2 linked regions of the Homo sapiens genome follow. The protein of the gene in region 1 binds, or shares a complex with, the protein of each later gene. Each region holds a gene or a part of one and is shown in the gene's direction. Other genes may lie near its edges. The genes, in order: MYO5B and RAB11A.

Region 1 (11,080 bases):
TGGAACGGCACCCCACCCCTCTTAGCTGTGGAGGTATTGGGAGGATCCCTAAAAGCTCAGCTTTCAGTTCTTTCACTGAAGCCGGTTAGGTTTTCAGGAGCTGGGACTGGAGGCTGGAAGCCAGTGAGGCAGGGGAAAAATCTGAACTGGAGTGCTCAAAGAGCCGAAGCTTTGTTACATTAAAGTGCATGGAGATACAACTTGTGCTCCTAAGTAAAAGGAGTGACTCAACTGAATATACCTACAATGTGTCAAAGTCCTTTGTCAGGCAATATTGAATTGCTGTATTATATGAGGGGGAAAGTTTGTGGGGGAAAAATGGAGTTAAAAGATTAAAAATATAAACTTTATTTCTCAACACAGTTTCCATCAAGTTCAAGACACTTTTTTAAGTTATACCAGCCACTTAGTTCGTCCCTAAAGAACTGAGGGTCCTGGGAATTTAACCATGTCAATGCAGTCTCTTTTACATTATTAACTGGAAAAGATGCAGGTCATTTAGTTCAAGATTAGGACACAAAGTCAGAAGGAGCCAAATCAGGACTGTGAGGTGGACGCCTAATAGTTTTCCACAGAAACTCTTGCAAAATTGCTCTTCTTTGAGAGGAATGAGAAGGAGCATTGTTGTGGCAGAAAAGGACTTTCTGGTGAAGTTTCCTGGGTGTTTTTCTGCTAAAGCTTTGGCTTCCTAAAGACACTCATAATAAGCAGATGTCTTCATCATTTGGCCTTCTAGAAAGACAACAAGCAAAATGGCTTGAGCATTCCCCCAAAATGTTGCTGTGATCTCTGCTCTGAACCAGTCCATCTTTGCTGTGACTGGACCTCTTCCACCTCTTGGCAGTCTTTGCTTTGATTGGGCTTTGTCTTCAGGATTGTACTGGGAGAGCCACATTTCATCCCGTTACAATTCAAAGAAATGCTTCAGGGTCTTGATCTCACTTGTTTAGAATTTCCATCGAAAGCTCTGCTGTTGTCTGCAGTTGATCTGGGTGCAGCAGTTTTGGTATCCATCAAGTGCGAACTTTGCTCAACTTTGTTTTCGGTCAGAATCATGTAAGCTGAACCAATTGAGATGTCTGTGGTGTTGGCTATTGTTTCTACCATTGTCAGCCCTCTTCAATTAGGGCACAAACAAGCTACATTTTTTTTTTTTTTCTCTCAAATGGGTGTGGATGGTCTGCTGGTACAGGCTTCATCTTTGACATCGCTTCGTCCCTTCTTCAAATGAATTATCCACTTAAAAACTGATTGTCCCCATAAACTTTTCATAAAGTCATGATTTCACAATTCTTCTCTCCACACTTCGTCATAAATTTGATGTTTGGTCTTGCTTCAATTTTAGTAGAATTCATGTTGCCCTGATAGGGGCTTCTTTTCAAACTGATGACTTAACTTTCTTAGTGCCTCAAACTAGACCCTGTTCTAGATCCCATTCATACTTGTTATAACAAGTATAAAACTATGGGTTTGTTTTGGTGCAGAAAACTCTGAAATCCATGTGAATTTTTTTCCATGATATGCATTTTCCATGACCTTGAAATAGTGCTCATATGAGGCTAATGGACAATTGAATAAACCCTTAATCTTCGGAGCCCTAGTTTTGAAGAACAAGAATTAATATCGGATTGCTTTTAAAGACAATACTTGTAGGAGAAAACACTCAATTTGATTTTTAGTTAGAAATGAATACATTGCATGTTAATTCTTAGGAATGATGAAGTAGTGGGAGTCTGAACTTGGGTTTCAGTGTACTTTTTCTCAGGTTATGGAGATGTACAAAACTGGTGTCACCAGAGAAAGGTCTTGGATATAAGACACTTAAAAAGTAGCTTCATTGGTGTGAGGGGTTGGCATAATTAATCCCAAACAAATATTAGAGTTCTTCCCTAAGGGCTGCTGGGCTGCACCTTGCTCTGTTAATGGGTTTCCAGTTCTTAATCATTTAGGGTCTTGATTATGAAATTAAGGAGATTTTCTGGGACCCAAGACAGTATCTTCTAGATTTATGTTTTGAGCAGTTGTTATTCTTCCTGGCAATTAACACACTTGTGCTTTACTATGAGAAGCAGTTGTGTAGTTGCCTAACCATGGTCTCCCCACTTGCCAAGCTGGCTTCTCAGTATGCATGTGAATCATAAGTTACACAGGGAAGTCGTGCCTGCTACTCAGATTCACTTTGTTTCTTAGAGATTATTCATTTTAGTGTATTATCAAAATAGCCAATGTTCCCTTTTATTTTTAACTTGCTAGTGGGCTTTCCTAATGTGATGAACACTGGAGCCAGACACACACATCAATGTATTATGTATGATGGAAATAATTACCCATTATGCTAACAGCATTTATACATTTTTGGGAATGGAAAATTTAAAGCCCTTTGATTATACCTGTTGCTTTTGTGATAGTTAGAAGATGTTATTATTGGAATATGAAACATTTAAATATATATTAGCTTGTATTAAATACTGTTCAGTAAGAAATTAGTGTATTTCTAGTTATCTAAGAAAATAGTTTCTTTTTCCCTCCATCCAATTAAATGTGTTCTTGCTCTTCTTGATCTGTTCCCTTCAAGTGGCAGTTTATATGTTATGTGATTTTTTTTTGGTAGGTCGGGGGCCAAAGGGCACTTCTCTTTGAACAGAGACACTCCTGTTCTCAGAAGACCCAACACCTCACCTTTGAGAAATTGTTTTCTTTGTAGTGAGGTTTTTCTGGATGGAGAAAGAGCACCAGTCAGTGCCAGACACTTTCAGGGTGATGTCAAAGTGAGTCAGTCTCATTCACTCTCACATCAGCTCCAAAGGTGGAGCTGATGATGGTCTCTGTTGTCACAGTGGCATGCATGTGGTCAGTGTGAGTGCTTGGCTTCCAACCCATTGGAAAAGACAATGTGGGCTTTGCTTTGCATAGATCCAGAAAGAAGCCCACACATGTGCAAGCATGGTGAATACCATTTCATCATGATGATTGCAGATAGTAGTCTGATTTTAAAGCATAAAATGTAACCTCTCCTTCTCAGGCTGAATAATACAACTCTTATCTATAGAAGAGTTACTTGGAACAAAAAATTTAAATACTGCTATTTCAAATACCTGGATTTTCAATATGCTACTTTGATTCTAGCCAGCAGAGTGAATGAGAAATCATCAAATTGAAACTGGTGCCTTGAAACCAGTGCCTTCAAATAACCTTTTTTCCTGCTTGGCTTCTAATTGATAGGTAGTGTCTGAGCAGTGGGTTTTTGAGTGCTGCTGGGAGGTTACTTTACTGGCAGACACACCATATGTATGGCAGCTTTGCACCCAGGAGCCTTTACTAAGGGCGCGATTTGGGACCAATCATTTGAAAAATAGATCTTCTGTGCTTTTGGGCAGGTGTCCTTTAACAGTCCCTTACCTATACCTCAGGTAATGTAAGTTTCTCCCAAGTGTCAGTCTGAAGGCAGCAAGAGCCACCTGTTTCCTCTGTACCCAGTCACCCCTGCTGGAGGGGCTGATGATTCCTTCTTTTGCTGGTGGCTCTGAGTGATGTTCTTTTTTCCAAAAAGTGGTGACAGTGTTAAAGACATGAGGACTTGAAAAGTGTCAGCAGATGCTGTTAGTGCTCCTATTGTTTCCCCCTTACTCCCTTCCCTGCATACTGCCTTGGTGTTAGCTCACTCCCAATAGCCAGCACCCATCTCTTTGTCAAAGCTCCTGAAGCTGTTTTGCCTGTGTGCATAGGGAGCCTGGGAATTGACACTCTGCAAAAGGGAACAGTCCTTAACCAATGGCACTGTAATGACATTAGTTTCCTATCTTGTCACCTTGAGAATGGAACAGCTCTAAAGTATGACCCATACTGTTTTCAGTTTCTTTGTACAGTTGAACTAAAGTTACCATGCTTGGGACTTTCCTTAGTATCACATGTTAGCTTGACTTCCTTCCCTCTCTTGTCCACCTTCTCTACTCCCCTACCAGTCTTTTCCGGAAAACACTGCCTTACAAGTCTCTTGAGCAGGAATCCTTGTCTCAGGATCAGATTCTAGGAGCCCAAGTTAACCATAACTCATGGTGGCTTAGCTTAGTGGATGTTGAGAATCTCAAGGGCTTTGGCCCCTCTATGGTCCCAGGAAAGGCTGAAAAGAAGCATGGAGGTTGTGTGTCATGCTGTCACTTTCCTTCTGAGGCTCATTCTCTGTCTTGCATGTGGTTTTTTTCTTCTCTCATCCCTAGTTCCAATTCCGTTGATCCTCTGCTCCCCGTTTTCAGATGGGCCTATAAGCCCAGTGGATCCTGCTTCACCATGTTGGCGATCATCAGAATTTTGAAGTTTGTACTTGTGACTTGTGGATGTGGCATATTCCAATGGCCTGTAACCTGTAATCATTGAGCAGGCTCTTGCCCTGCCCTCCTTTGTTGATAGGTGTGTGTGTTTTTTTTTTTTTTTTTTTTTTTTTTTTTTTTATGACAGAGTCTCACTGTGTCACCAGTCTAGAGTGCAGTGGAACGATCTCAGCTCACTGCAACCTCTGCCTCCTGGGTTCGAGTGATTCTGCGGCCTCAGCCTCCTGAGTATCTGGGACTACAGGTGTGTGCCACCACTCCCGGCTACTTTTTGTATTTTTAGTAGAGACGGGGTTTTACCATGTTGGCCAGGATGGTCTCAATCTCTTGACCTCATGATCTACCCACCTCAGCCTTGTTGATAGTTTTTATGTGATGCTTTATCTAAGTAGGCTGAGATTCTGGAGAACAGAGGCCATACCAGATGTTTTTAGGAGCCTTCAGTGTGTTTGGTGATAAAAGCTAAATACACAAAGTACACTAACAATACAGGATTATCTGTGTGTCATTAGAGGAGTGCACATACTCCTCTACAAGTTACAGGCATTTTGTAGAAGTGTTGGTCTGGTGGGCTACAGTATTGCGGGAAAGGCTTCCTTTAAGGTGTAGTGGGACATGACTGGGGCCTAAAGAATGAATAGGATTTGAAATGCATGAGGAGGCTGTAAAGAAGGATGTTCTCTCAGGAGGAGACAGGGGAGAGTGAGTTTAAGCATAGGGACAGGTATGAGCTAGATGTATATGGGGATAATTATAGCACTATTTTTAACTATTTTGAAATATACACTTACAGAAACATTGCAAAAATAGTGCAGTTTCTATATTTTTCCAGATTGCTCCAGTGTTAACATGTCATATAACCATAGTGCAATTATTGAAACCAGGAGGTTAACATTTCTGTAATACTACTAACTGGTCTATAAAGCTCACCGGAATTTTACCACCTTTTTCACTAATGTTCTTTTTCTGGGCCAGGATCCTGTTTAGGGTTCCACATTGCCTTTAGGGTTGTAGCTCCCTGCCCCCCTCTAGTGACAGTTGCTCAGTTTTTTGTCTTTCATGACCTTGACACTTGAAGAACATTGGTCAAGCCAGGCACAGTCACTCACACCTGTAATCCTAGCACTTTGGGAGGCCAAGATGGGAGGATCCCTTAAACCCAGGAGTTCGAGACTAGCCTGGACAACATAGCGAGACCTCATCTCTACAAAAAATAGAAAAAATTAGCTGGGTGTGATGGCATGCACCTGTGGTCCTAGCTACTCTGGAGGCCGAGGTGGGAGGATTGCTTGAGCCTGGGAGTTGAGGTAGCAGTGAGCTGTGATTGTGCCACTGCACTCCAGGCTGGGTGACAGAGTGAGACCCTGTCTGCCCACCGCCCACCCCCCCAAAAAAAGCATTTCTCAATAATTTTGTAGAATGATTTTGGGTTTGTCAGACTGTCTTATGCTTACATGGAGGTTGTGACTTTTGGGCAAGAACACATCATAAATGCTGTGCCTTTCTCACTGCATCACCTCAGGAGACAGTGATATCAATGTGTCCTGTTACTGACGGATCACTTTGATCCCTTGGTTAAGCTGATGCCTGTCAGTTTCCTTTTATTGAAGAATGGAATTTAGAAATGAAGATCTGGTTGCTAGGTGTACTCATTACTACTTTTTGTAGTTATGTAGAAATTACAGAGACTAGAACTCAATAAATGTTTTATTAAGGGCAAGGGAAGTAGAAGAGTCAACTATGAACTTGAAATATCCACCTTGAGTGTGGACAGAAGTCAGGTTGGAGCAGGGATAATTCTTGATTTTTGACATGTTGGGTTTGGGATGAAAATGGTTTGTCTAAGTGAAAGCATTTATTTACATTTGGAGATTTACGAAAGAGCTTAGAGGAGAAATGTCAGGATCTGGGGTTCTTGCAAATGATGCCTGGGATTTGCTTTTCTTTAATGAAGAAATGCAGTTGTCTGATAGCATGGTGTTAATAAGGGTAAGATCAGGAGCTTGGTATGGGCATTTCCAAGGCCTTTGTGACTATGATCTTGAGGTGGACACCCTGGATATTGTGGCGCTCTCAGCTCCGACACATTGGAACAGATACTTTCTAAGCCTTGATTTCTTTATCTGAAGAATTGGGGTGGTACCTGCACCATGGGAAGGTTACTGGAGGCTTATAATCCTAATCCATGTGAAGTGCTTGTCTAACATAGTGTTGGCAACTGTTCATTAGTTTGCTTCTCCCTCCAGTCACCATGCTGGGTGGCAGTCAGCATTATGTGGCTAGCATGTTTTTTCCCCTAACCCTTCCCTGCTGTCCTGAAGGGGTCTTGATCACAAGGAGACTTGGTGAAAGAGGAAGTAGGATTGCTACAAACATGAACTATGAGAGCGGTAGACAAGATATGGTACTCCCCACCACCCCTGGGGAAGGAGCAAGAGCAGTCTGAAAGAAGTTTTAAGTTTAACCTGTGCTTTCTGGTCTCTTATTATAGCTTTAAAGGAAAATTAAAAAGCATTTTTCACAATGCTTCTGTTTTCCCTCTGTGAATACAAATGATTATTGAAACAATCCATACAATGCAGGAAAGACAAAAGCTCTGTAGTCTCATTCCCAGAAACAGCTGCTCTTGACCACTTAGGCATGTTCTCTGGACCTCCGTTGTCCAACAGGGTAACTGCATGTGGCTGCTGAGCACTTGCGATGAGGCTGGCCCAGCTTGGGATGAGCTGGAAGCGTGCAGTACTGTACACACTGGGTTTCCAAGACTTAGAAAAATGTATGCGAAATATCCTTCATACTTCTTATATTGGTTATGTGTTGAAGTGATTGTTATTTATATATTGGCTAAAATATTCTGTTCAATTCACCTTTTAAATGTGGTTATTAGAAAATTTAAAGTACCACAGGTGGCTCACAGTTGTAGTTTGCATTCTGTTTCTCTTGGGCAGTGCTGCTTTAGACTTATGCACAATATGTACTCAAAACAAATGGGATCATGCCATGTCTATTACTCTAAATCTTAATCTATGGCTATCTTTTCCTGTAGCCTACAAAGGCAATTTTGCCATTTTTAATGGCTGCACAAGGCAGCATATGGATGTACTGTAATTTTTTCTTAAAAATATACATTTTTTAAATTGCCAAGATCTGATGCCATATACTGTAATGTGTTTAACCATTCCCATGCTGATGAGCATTTAGGTTGGTTCCAATTATTTTCCTTTTGTTTTTTGTTGACAGTAATAATTGCACAAATTTATGGGGTTCAAGTGATTTTTTTAATACACGTATACAATGTATAATGATTAAATCGGGCAATTAGGTTATCCACCACCTCAAACATTTATCATTTCTTTGCATTAGAAACATTCAAGATCCTATCTTCTAGCTTTTTTGAACATACTAATAAATTGTTAATCTTTTGATACTGTGAAAGATTGTTCTTGTAACCTCATTTATTTTCTCAGAATAAATTCCTAAAGCTGGAATTGCTGGCATGCACATTTATAGTCTTCATTGATATGGCCAATAGCCACCACAAGAGAACCAGTCTGTTTCTTCGCCACTCTAAGTTCGGGTCATTGTTCTTTCTCTCTCTCTCTCTTTTTTTTTTTTTAAATTCTTATTCATACTAAATGTTTTACACATGTTTTAAAGTTGACTTTCATTGGAGGGTTGAGCCTCTGTTCACATGCTTGGTAGGCTCTACATTATTGATCACTGGGAACAATGTGTTGTTTTCCTTATATTTCTTGTTTGTATTAACTGGCATTATTTATAACTGTTTTTGCTCATTTAAATGACTACTCTATATTTTTTATTTTTTTGAGACAGGGTCTCATTCTGTCACCCAGGCTGGAGTGTGTGTGGTGGTGCAATCATGGCTCACTACAGCCTCAATCTCCTAGGCTCAAGCAATCCTCCCACCTCAGCCTCCCAAGTAGCTGGGAACAGGCATGCGACACCATGCCCAGCTAACTTAAAAATAATATATATATATATATTTTTTTCTGTGTGTGTGTGTGTGTGTGTAGAGATAGGGTCTCACCATGTTGCTCATGCTGGTCTTGAACTCCTGGCCTCAAGTGATCCTCCCACCTCAGCCTCCCAAAGTGCTGGGATTATAGGCATGAGTCACAGCACCCAGTCCACTCTATATTTTGAGATAGGAAAACATGGAAACCAGAATATTCAGGATACAATATATACATTTAAAGAATAAAGCACCTTGGCATGTATTTTCCCCTTCATTTGTTCTGAGCTTATGTATTTTGAACCCTCTAGTTGGACAACTACTGGTTATGGAGTGCTTTTGTGCCAAATCACTTCTCAGCACTACATGTTAGCTCATTTAACAATAACACAGGCTTATGTGACTTTCCCAAAGCTGCCTGGCTTCAGGGCCCAGCTTCTGACCACTGTGTTCTACTGCCTTCCATGAGGTTATCTGTCCCATTTATGGTGAGTCAGAACATCATTTGGATATAAGGGGCCCTAATATAGAGGGTCCTTTCTGCCTAGCACTGCCCTGCAACTCTCCCTGCCCCAGCAACAGAAAACCCACCAAGATCAGAGAAGGATCGAGTCCATGTGCAGAAAGAACGGCAGGTGGTCTGATCCTGCTTGTGTTCTTTTGCCACTGCCACCACTACCACACCCAGCCCCACGTGCATCCTGGTGCTTCTTAAAATTCTGTCCCAAATGTAGGCAGAACCCCTGCTTTTGGTTTTCCTTAGGCCATGTAGTCCCAAACGAGATCCACATCTTCAAAAAGGCAAAGTGTAACAAAGTACACTGTCTTAGTCCATTTTGTGTTGCTGCAACAGAATACCCGAGACTAGGTAATTTATTTTAAAAAGGTTTATTTAGCTCACAGTTCTGTAGGCTGGGAAGTTCAAGGGCATTGCCCTGGCTTCTGGCAAGGCTGTCCTGATGTCATAACATGGTGGAGAATGTCAAAGCAGAAGCAGACATGTGCAAAAAGACAAAATCTGAGGGACATCCTGTCATAACAACTCACTGTCGTGGGAATGAATCCATTCCCAGGAGAACGAATCCAGTCTCACTATAGTGAGAACTCACTACCATGAGAACAGCACCATACCATTCATGAGGGATCCGCCCCTATAACCCAAACACATCCCACTAGGCCCCGCCTCCCACCCCCGCCACATTGGGGATCAAATTTCAACATGAGCTTTGAGGACAAATGATTCATATCTAAACCACAGCATACCTGAAATTCAAGGAGCTTAAAATTGGGTATTTCTGATCTAAAACTAACCATCCTTTCATTCTCAGGGCCTTGGTCCACTTTTCCTGGCTCCATCTCTCACTTAACATCCTCCAGTGAAAAGCTGCCTCCTTCCTACCATGCTTGACACTTTAATAGGCATTTTGCTTTCTTTCTGGGCCATGACCTGAGACTCCTGGAAGCCTTTCCTCATCTTCTTGTTTAGTCAAAGGCCCAGCTTAGGTATCATCATTTAATGTGCTTTAGAGAGGAATACATACAGAATAATACCATTCTTAGAATTTCTGAAACAAAATGAATAGTATTGAAGGAGATATATATATATATATATATATATATATATATGATAAAATTGAGGAAACACCAGGGAATGAAGGAAAAGAAAACAGTCTAGAATAATTACTGGGAGGTGGGAGTGGCAGGGGAGCAGCATGGGAAACTGTACTATTAACAGTCTAATTTGGGTAGTGAGTTCACAGGTATTCATTTTATTACCGTGCATCATCAATTATCCAAAAAAGGTGGTTCTGCTGAAAATAGGATGAGTTATAATGCCAAATTAAAAGATGCAATGCCAAATCAAAAGCTTTGAGGTCATAGGTAGTTTTTAGATTCACTGTTTCATTACTCTTTGTTTTGGGTACGCAATTGGTGGTTGAGTGTGTATATTTGCAAAATTGCTGTCATTGAAGTTGTAGGTAGAATCTTAGCCTCACATCCCTCACAGTTCCCAGGGTGGGGTTTTGCATGCTGTAGGAACTCAACAAATATCATTGAATTGGTTTAAAGTTTACCTACAACCCCCCAACCCCCCACAGCCTGGTTCTAGGCATGGCTCTTTGAGGAAAGTCCTCTCCTCACCAAGGAGCCACCTTCCTTGACTGTAACATTACCTTCTGTGATTTTGGAAAGGCTTTTGGCTTGGCATAACCAGTAGAAAGCCCATCTGTTTCCTCTGGCACTTGCCAAAGTCTATGGAATGTGGAGCCCCTGTCAGGAGATAATTAAATGTTTTTCTTTTTTATGACAGTGCTCAAAGGCTTAGCACAAGGTGTGAATGTAGAATATCAGCAAAGTAACATTCATGGATGTGAGAGTTAATTTAACTGCCTTGTGTTTGAATATCCTAATTTTACACGTTATTTTGGGCACATATTTTTGCCCTTACCTTCTCAAGGTTATCATTTGTTAAGAGCACAGTCTCCTATTTTTCCCCCAATTAACTCAAAAGGTTTTATTAACAATCTTTCTCCACCAAGCTGGCCAAAGGAAGAAAACAAACACCCCCAAAACCAGTCTTATGAAGACCCATGGGTATTTGCATGATGAGGTGGGGGCATGTATGGATATCCACCTGTCCTGTTAGATGTAGCAAAGCCAGTGGCTTTCAGAACAGAAAACAGTGAATCCAGGAAGAAAAACTAGATCGAGTTGTTTTCTTCTCTCACCTAGAAAAGATAACAGTACTCATAGTTTTTGCCTGAAGGTTCAGACCATC
Region 2 (5,999 bases), on another chromosome or scaffold:
AGGCTAATTGTGTTAATTTGACACATTTTTAGAATTATCTTGCTTTTTGAGAGTAGTGTTTTTGGAGGGACAACTGGGAGAGTAAACAAAAATAAGGTACATTCTCTGTTCTTAAGGACTTTATAATCTAGTCACAGGGAACAACTTTTAGGCAGTGCAGTATAAGACCAAACGTGTTACATACAGATACTTATTGTGGAGGAATTTAGTGACATTCATGCGGTTATTTATTTATCACAACACATGTTATATGTTGCAGTACAGCAGTAAGACAGACACAGTTTTGATCCTTACAGAGTTTAACACTTAGTAAAAGAGGCAGACACTAAATTATTTTTGATAAGTGTCATGAAATAAAAATAGAGTTTACATATAACATCTTAAGTTGCCTATTTTGTATCATTCTTTAATTACAATTTAAGTTTTGTTCAGGAGGTCACTGATAAACACATTATCTTTTTTTCCCTTCCAAGAATCGTTTGGGATTTTAGCATGTTTGTTAAGATGTACTCTGCCGAATGCGTCTGATAGTGCAAATTTATTTATTTTTTGTGTGGTACAATGTCATTGTGTGTAGGCAATTTTTGTTTGTTTGTTTGTTTTTTGGGGTAAAGGTAGACTGAAAATACTCTTATGGTTTACTTTGAATCTAAGTCCATAAACAATGTAATGCTATTGGCTTACCTCTTTTTTTTTTTTTTGAGACCGAGTCTTGCTCTGTTGTCTAGGCTGGAGTGCAGTGGCACGATCTCATCTCACGACAACCTCCGCCTCCCGGGTTCAAGTGATTCTCCTGCCTCAGCCTCCCGAGTAGCTGGGATTACAGGCACCCACCATCATGCTTGGCTAATTTTTGTATTTTTGTAGAGACAGGGTTTCACCATGTTGGTCAGGCTGGTCTTGAACTCCTGACCTCAGGTGATCTGCCTGGCCTGGTTTACCTCTTTAAACAAAGATTTATTTGACTGGTGAACCTTTCCCTCTGACATGGAAAAACCTTTGTTTCTTTTCTTACCCAAAGGGCAATTGTTAAAATAAAGGGTTGAATCTAATCAGTGGCTGTTTGAAAATAAAACTTTAAATTTATGTATTCTCTGTTCAGTTTCCTTAGGGACTTTGATGCAAATATATCTCCTACCTTTATGTATCTTTTATCCTAACTATGATAGGTTTATTCACACTAAGTATTGTGGTTTCTTTTTTCCTTCAGAGATTTACCGCATTGTTTCTCAGAAGCAAATGTCAGACAGACGCGAAAATGACATGTCTCCAAGCAACAATGTGGTTCCTATTCATGTTCCACCAACCACTGAAAACAAGCCAAAGGTGCAGTGCTGTCAGAACATCTAAGGCATTTCTCTTCTCCCCTAGAAGGCTGTGTATAGTCCATTTCCCAGGTCTGAGATTTAAATATATTTGTAATTCTTGTGTCACTTTTGTGTTTTATTACTTCATACTTATGAATTTTTCCATGTCCTAAGTCTTTTGATTTTAGCTTTATAAAATCATCCACTTGTCCCGAATGACTGCAGCTTTTTTTCATGCTATGGCTTCACTAGCCTTAGTTTAATAAACTGAATGTTTGGATTCCTCAGTTATTGTTTACTTTTCATCATGGAAGCCTGTCACTGTATGTAGGACATAATAGAACTTGATCACTTGAAGCTCAGACCTATTGGTCTTGATCAAATCAAACTAAGAAGACCTTAGAAATAAGCTACCATTTTGCCACAGAGCAGCTTATAGGTAATACACTCTTCTCTCAGTGCAGTGTACATTTCCACAAATCTAAGAATTGCCCTATAAACATAGCAGGATTTTGAGAGCTTGAAAATTTTCCATTATTCTGGACATGAATTTCTAAAATGCCTTAATAGGTTTATGTAGTTGAGTAAATTTTGTTTTTTAATTTTTGTAAGCATCAAAGTTGATTAGAGAGGGGGGCACTTTTTCTGGAGAATTCTCTTAGTAAACACAAAAGATTGTTACGGTTTCATTAGTAGTATGGTTGTGGGGCCATAAGTTAAACAGTGCTGCCTGGTAGGCTGGGAACTGAAGAGACTTGTGGTATTCCATCTCGGGTGCCTCTGTTGGCAATGATCAGGCAGCCCAAAAGATTTAAATGATCTATAATAATTTCCAAGCGGTAGATTATGTGGCATTTTATTGCTCAGGCAATAATTGGTTTAATGCTGGTAGTGTCAAATTTTGAAGTGTTAATTTTGTCTTAGAACCTTCCAGTAAGTGAAATACAACCTAGTTTTATCACCATATCCACCAGCAGGCATGGATAATTATTTTAACAATGCTAATATTTGAGTTTTGCAGTATATTATAGAATATAGTCCAGTTAAATCTTTGGTTTCAGTATGTCTGAAGAGTACAGTGAGAGGTTAATTTCTGCTCAAGTGGTACCACTTAAAGGCATGTATTCTTTTAGTATGTAAAATGAAATAGTACCTTGAGTTTAAATAGAATGCATTTAGGCATTGTAGAGATCTGAAATAGTTTTCTTCCACTACATTGTTGAAATCAATGAAGCAATTAGTTTCTCATTCAGAAATGTGCACACTAATATTTAGTTTTGCTTTCTCGTGGATAATATTAAGCACTTACTCTGCAGTTTCCTGGAAGTTGTGTCAACTGCAGTGATACTATTCAGGATGGTGGGAAATCCCCAAAAATATGTATGTGTGGGCTTGCTTAGATTACTATATTTCATAGTTAATCTTTTGTCTCTTGCGGTGCTCATGATGTGTGGGGCACACGGAAGGCATTGCTGTAGTCAGTCATTTTGGTTTTCTTCTATAGCCATTTTATTATTTTAGTGTATTAGTTATGAAGATAATATTATCTATTTGTAAATTGCTACTTTGTATTTTATGCATGCTCTGTAATTTGATTTTTTTTTAGTTATTGATTTGGATTATATTCACATTCTAATAAACAGTTATAGGGGGATTATTTCTTATGCTGTCAGATTACATTTTTCCTTTGAGTGCTTTGGGTGCAGCCGTGGAATCCTGATGTAAAAGCATAGGTTCTTGCATTACTGAGTAAACATTGAATTGGGAGCATCAGTGTGTGAATTCAGCTTTGATTTTAGAACTGCAGTTCAATTATGCTTTCCTTGGAAAAAGTATGTCCAAAAACATTAGGAAAGTAGTGTGTATTTTCATATATAACAGTGTCACCAGACCCAGGAAAAGAAACCATCTCTATTTTATTGAAAGTTGGTGGTAGATTTTTTACAAAGTAAGGAGAAAAGAGAAAAACTAAATAGTGAATTGAAAATGAATAAAGTAAACTTAGAATTTTTACCCAAGTGTAGACTTAAATGTTGCTTTGAGTATGGCTGGATCTTGGGAGAATTCCAGGAAATATTAGGTATTAGAAAATGACTTTGATTGCATTTCAGCAGGTGTCTTTATTCTGAGTAGTATCTTAGGAGACAAACTGTCTCAAGCAAGAAACAATAAATTTTTAAATATTATGACAGTTCAGGGCTTAAGGCAGTTTAGAAGTATTTTGCTACTTGACCTTGATTTTCAGTTATTTTAACTTTGAATTTTTTTTTTTTTTTTTGAGACGGAGTCTTGCTCTGTTGCCCAGGCTGGAGTACAATGGCACCATCTCAGCTCACTGCAAGCTCCACCTCCAGGGTTCATGCCATTCTCCTGCCTCAGCCTCCCGAGTAGCTGGGATTATAGGCGCCAGCCACCACGACTGGCTAATTTTTTGTATTTTTAGTAGAGACGGGGTTTCACCATGTTAGCCAGGGTGGTCTCGATCTCCTGACCTGGTGATACACCCACCTCGGCCTCCCAAAGTGCTGGGATTAAAGGCGTGAGCCACCGTGCCTGGCCTTGAATTTTTTTTTAACCTGTTATATAGTCTCCTGAATAGTTAGCCATGGTGCCTTGATTTAATCTTATGTCATTGTTCTCAAATGCCATGATTTCTCTTTAATAGTAGTTGTCATTATGTAAGGGTAAGTTATTGCCCATTTAATTGTAATTATAAGAAGAGGTGCCAGCTAGTGACCTTACATCAGTGATCTTTTAAGTTCTGAAGGGTTCTGCAGAAAAGTTACACTTCTTGAGTTTGGGTTGCCCATCAGAGCTGGTCACATTTCTTTGATCATTGAAAAAATGAATATCTTAATTTTTGTCTTTGCTGACTGGTATTTATAAAATACAAATGCTTTTAGTGGGTTGAGCTGTTGTGATAATCTCTTCCATCTACCTTAGAGAAGAAGCTGTACTATTTAGACAGTTTTGGCCAACACTAGAAGCAAAAGAATTCAAAGGCTGGGTGGATATTTAAGAACTTATTCTAACCTGTCAGGTTTCAATTTGTGGGGCTTGGTTTAACAGAGGAAAAAAATATAAATTGATTTTCTGATGTCTCACAAATATCACATACCTGGAAAAAAATTAAAACAAAAAATGAATTTTGTAAAAGGTTATGTATGACTTCCATTTGCTCTGTAAAAAAATGAACAAAGATTGTGAAAGGATCCTCTTCCACCACATCATTTAATGGGTTAGCGGAACAGATAGGGAGCTATGACACTAGCACCAAAGAGAGATTTTTCTTCTGGTTGGGTGGTGCTGGTGCCACGCCCCTTTCTGGGATTTGACAAGTCTTTCCCACTCACCTATACAATATGCCAAATCAACTGGAGTTGTCATTCTAATGTTTTAAAGAATGATTGGGTTCCCCCAAACTGTAGGAGGTCGATGGTAACAATAAAGTGATACAAAATGCTTATGTCATTATAATTTATGTAAGGGAGACCATTAGGCTGAGAATCAATATGATTGAGGTTATCTATTCTCCTGAAAAGTGAATTGGAGAATAAAGAAAGAATATTTGAAAGGATGTTGTGTACTAGGCAATATACTAGCATGTATTAGAAAATACGGTAAACTGTGGGTTAGAAGAGTGAAAGTAGCTGGTATGATAGAGCACTGGACTGAGTAACGAAGAGATTCTAGTCATGGCTCTTGTGGTCATTTCATTTTTGAGCCTCACATTCTTCCAATTAATGAGGGTACCAGATTAAATAAACTCTGGGGATTCATCCCAATTCGAACTCTGTAATTCTCTGAATGAACTCTCTCTTCAATTAAAGCCAAATTATTAACATTTTAACTCAAGTTTAAATTTAATAGAGAAGTCAAAATGAGGTATGCACTTTGTGGAATGTTTTTGGTCTTATCACAATAACCTGATTAAAATGGTGCCTTTATTTCCATGTTTACTCCTTTAAATAAGATGAAAGCTTTCAGAACATTTATTTGCAAAATGACTGTCAATATCAACAATATGCATCAAAGTACCATATATGCTAAGGGAGAGGAGCACTTGATGGGCTGCTATGTTAACTGTAAATTGAGAACTGCTTGTTTTATGGCTTTTGCTGTTAAAAAAAAACTGCTGGCTTTTAATATGTACTTTAAAATATACTCATGTCTGGGAGAGAACTTTTAAAAACATTTTGTGTTTAATTTTTAAAAAATTATTTCTTTAATAGGAATCTACAAGAAGGTAGATCAGTCCACAGGCTAGCTATCCAGTAGAACCAGTGATTAAATCCAAGTGTACAGGTTTATGTGTGCATGTACATGATACACATGGTATTTTGGGGTTGTTGATCTAGTGATCTAATTATTAATAGTCAAAACATTATTTAAATTCAATTCTTTGACATTTATTAATTATAGGATAGTTCCTGACACGGGTGTGAGCACAAAATGTTATGTATATTGGCTAACTATGTTACCAGTACCAGTGATGGTAGTGAGAATTAGCAGCCAACAGGATTCCTTTACTATGTTTGAGTCAGTGGAACTTAACCTTGCTCCAAACCACAAAATCTCAGACCTTTTTAACTCTCATCCCAATGAATAATGTACTGTTTTTAGCACCTGTCCCCCTGTTGACAACCTCTAATCTCTCAGCATACCATTTTCTCAGGTATTTCTAGGGAAGTG

The links.
Region 2: the proteins of MYO5B (region 1) and RAB11A are in contact, whole or in part, in a crystal structure (PDB 4LX0), measured with the Homo sapiens proteins. Residues at the interface, in NP_001073936.1 of Homo sapiens: Ile1627, Gln1628, Gly1629, Leu1630, Trp1706, Met1710, Arg1713, Tyr1714, Ser1717, Gln1718, Glu1721, Arg1724, Gln1745, Leu1747, Gln1748, Leu1749, Lys1750, Lys1751, Glu1755, Ala1759, Leu1763, Tyr1779, Glu1786; in NP_004654.1 of Homo sapiens: Leu11, Lys13, Arg33, Glu35, Ile44, Gly45, Val46, Glu47, Phe48, Ala49, Thr50, Gln63, Trp65, Glu71, Arg72, Tyr73, Arg74, Ala75, Ile76, Thr77, Ala79, Tyr80, Arg82, Gly83.

The regions. Positions count from the first base shown.
Region 1 is NC_000018.10:50,182,154-50,193,233, reverse strand, and holds part of MYO5B (unconventional myosin-Vb), read left to right. Parts: intron 1-11,080. UniProt on the Homo sapiens protein: May be involved in vesicular trafficking via its association with the CART complex. The CART complex is necessary for efficient transferrin receptor recycling but not for EGFR degradation.
Region 2 is NC_000015.10:65,886,491-65,892,489, forward strand, and holds the end of RAB11A (ras-related protein Rab-11A), read left to right. Parts: intron 1-1,210; coding exon 1,211-1,350; 3' UTR 1,351-5,499; downstream 5,500-5,999. UniProt on the Homo sapiens protein: The small GTPases Rab are key regulators of intracellular membrane trafficking, from the formation of transport vesicles to their fusion with membranes.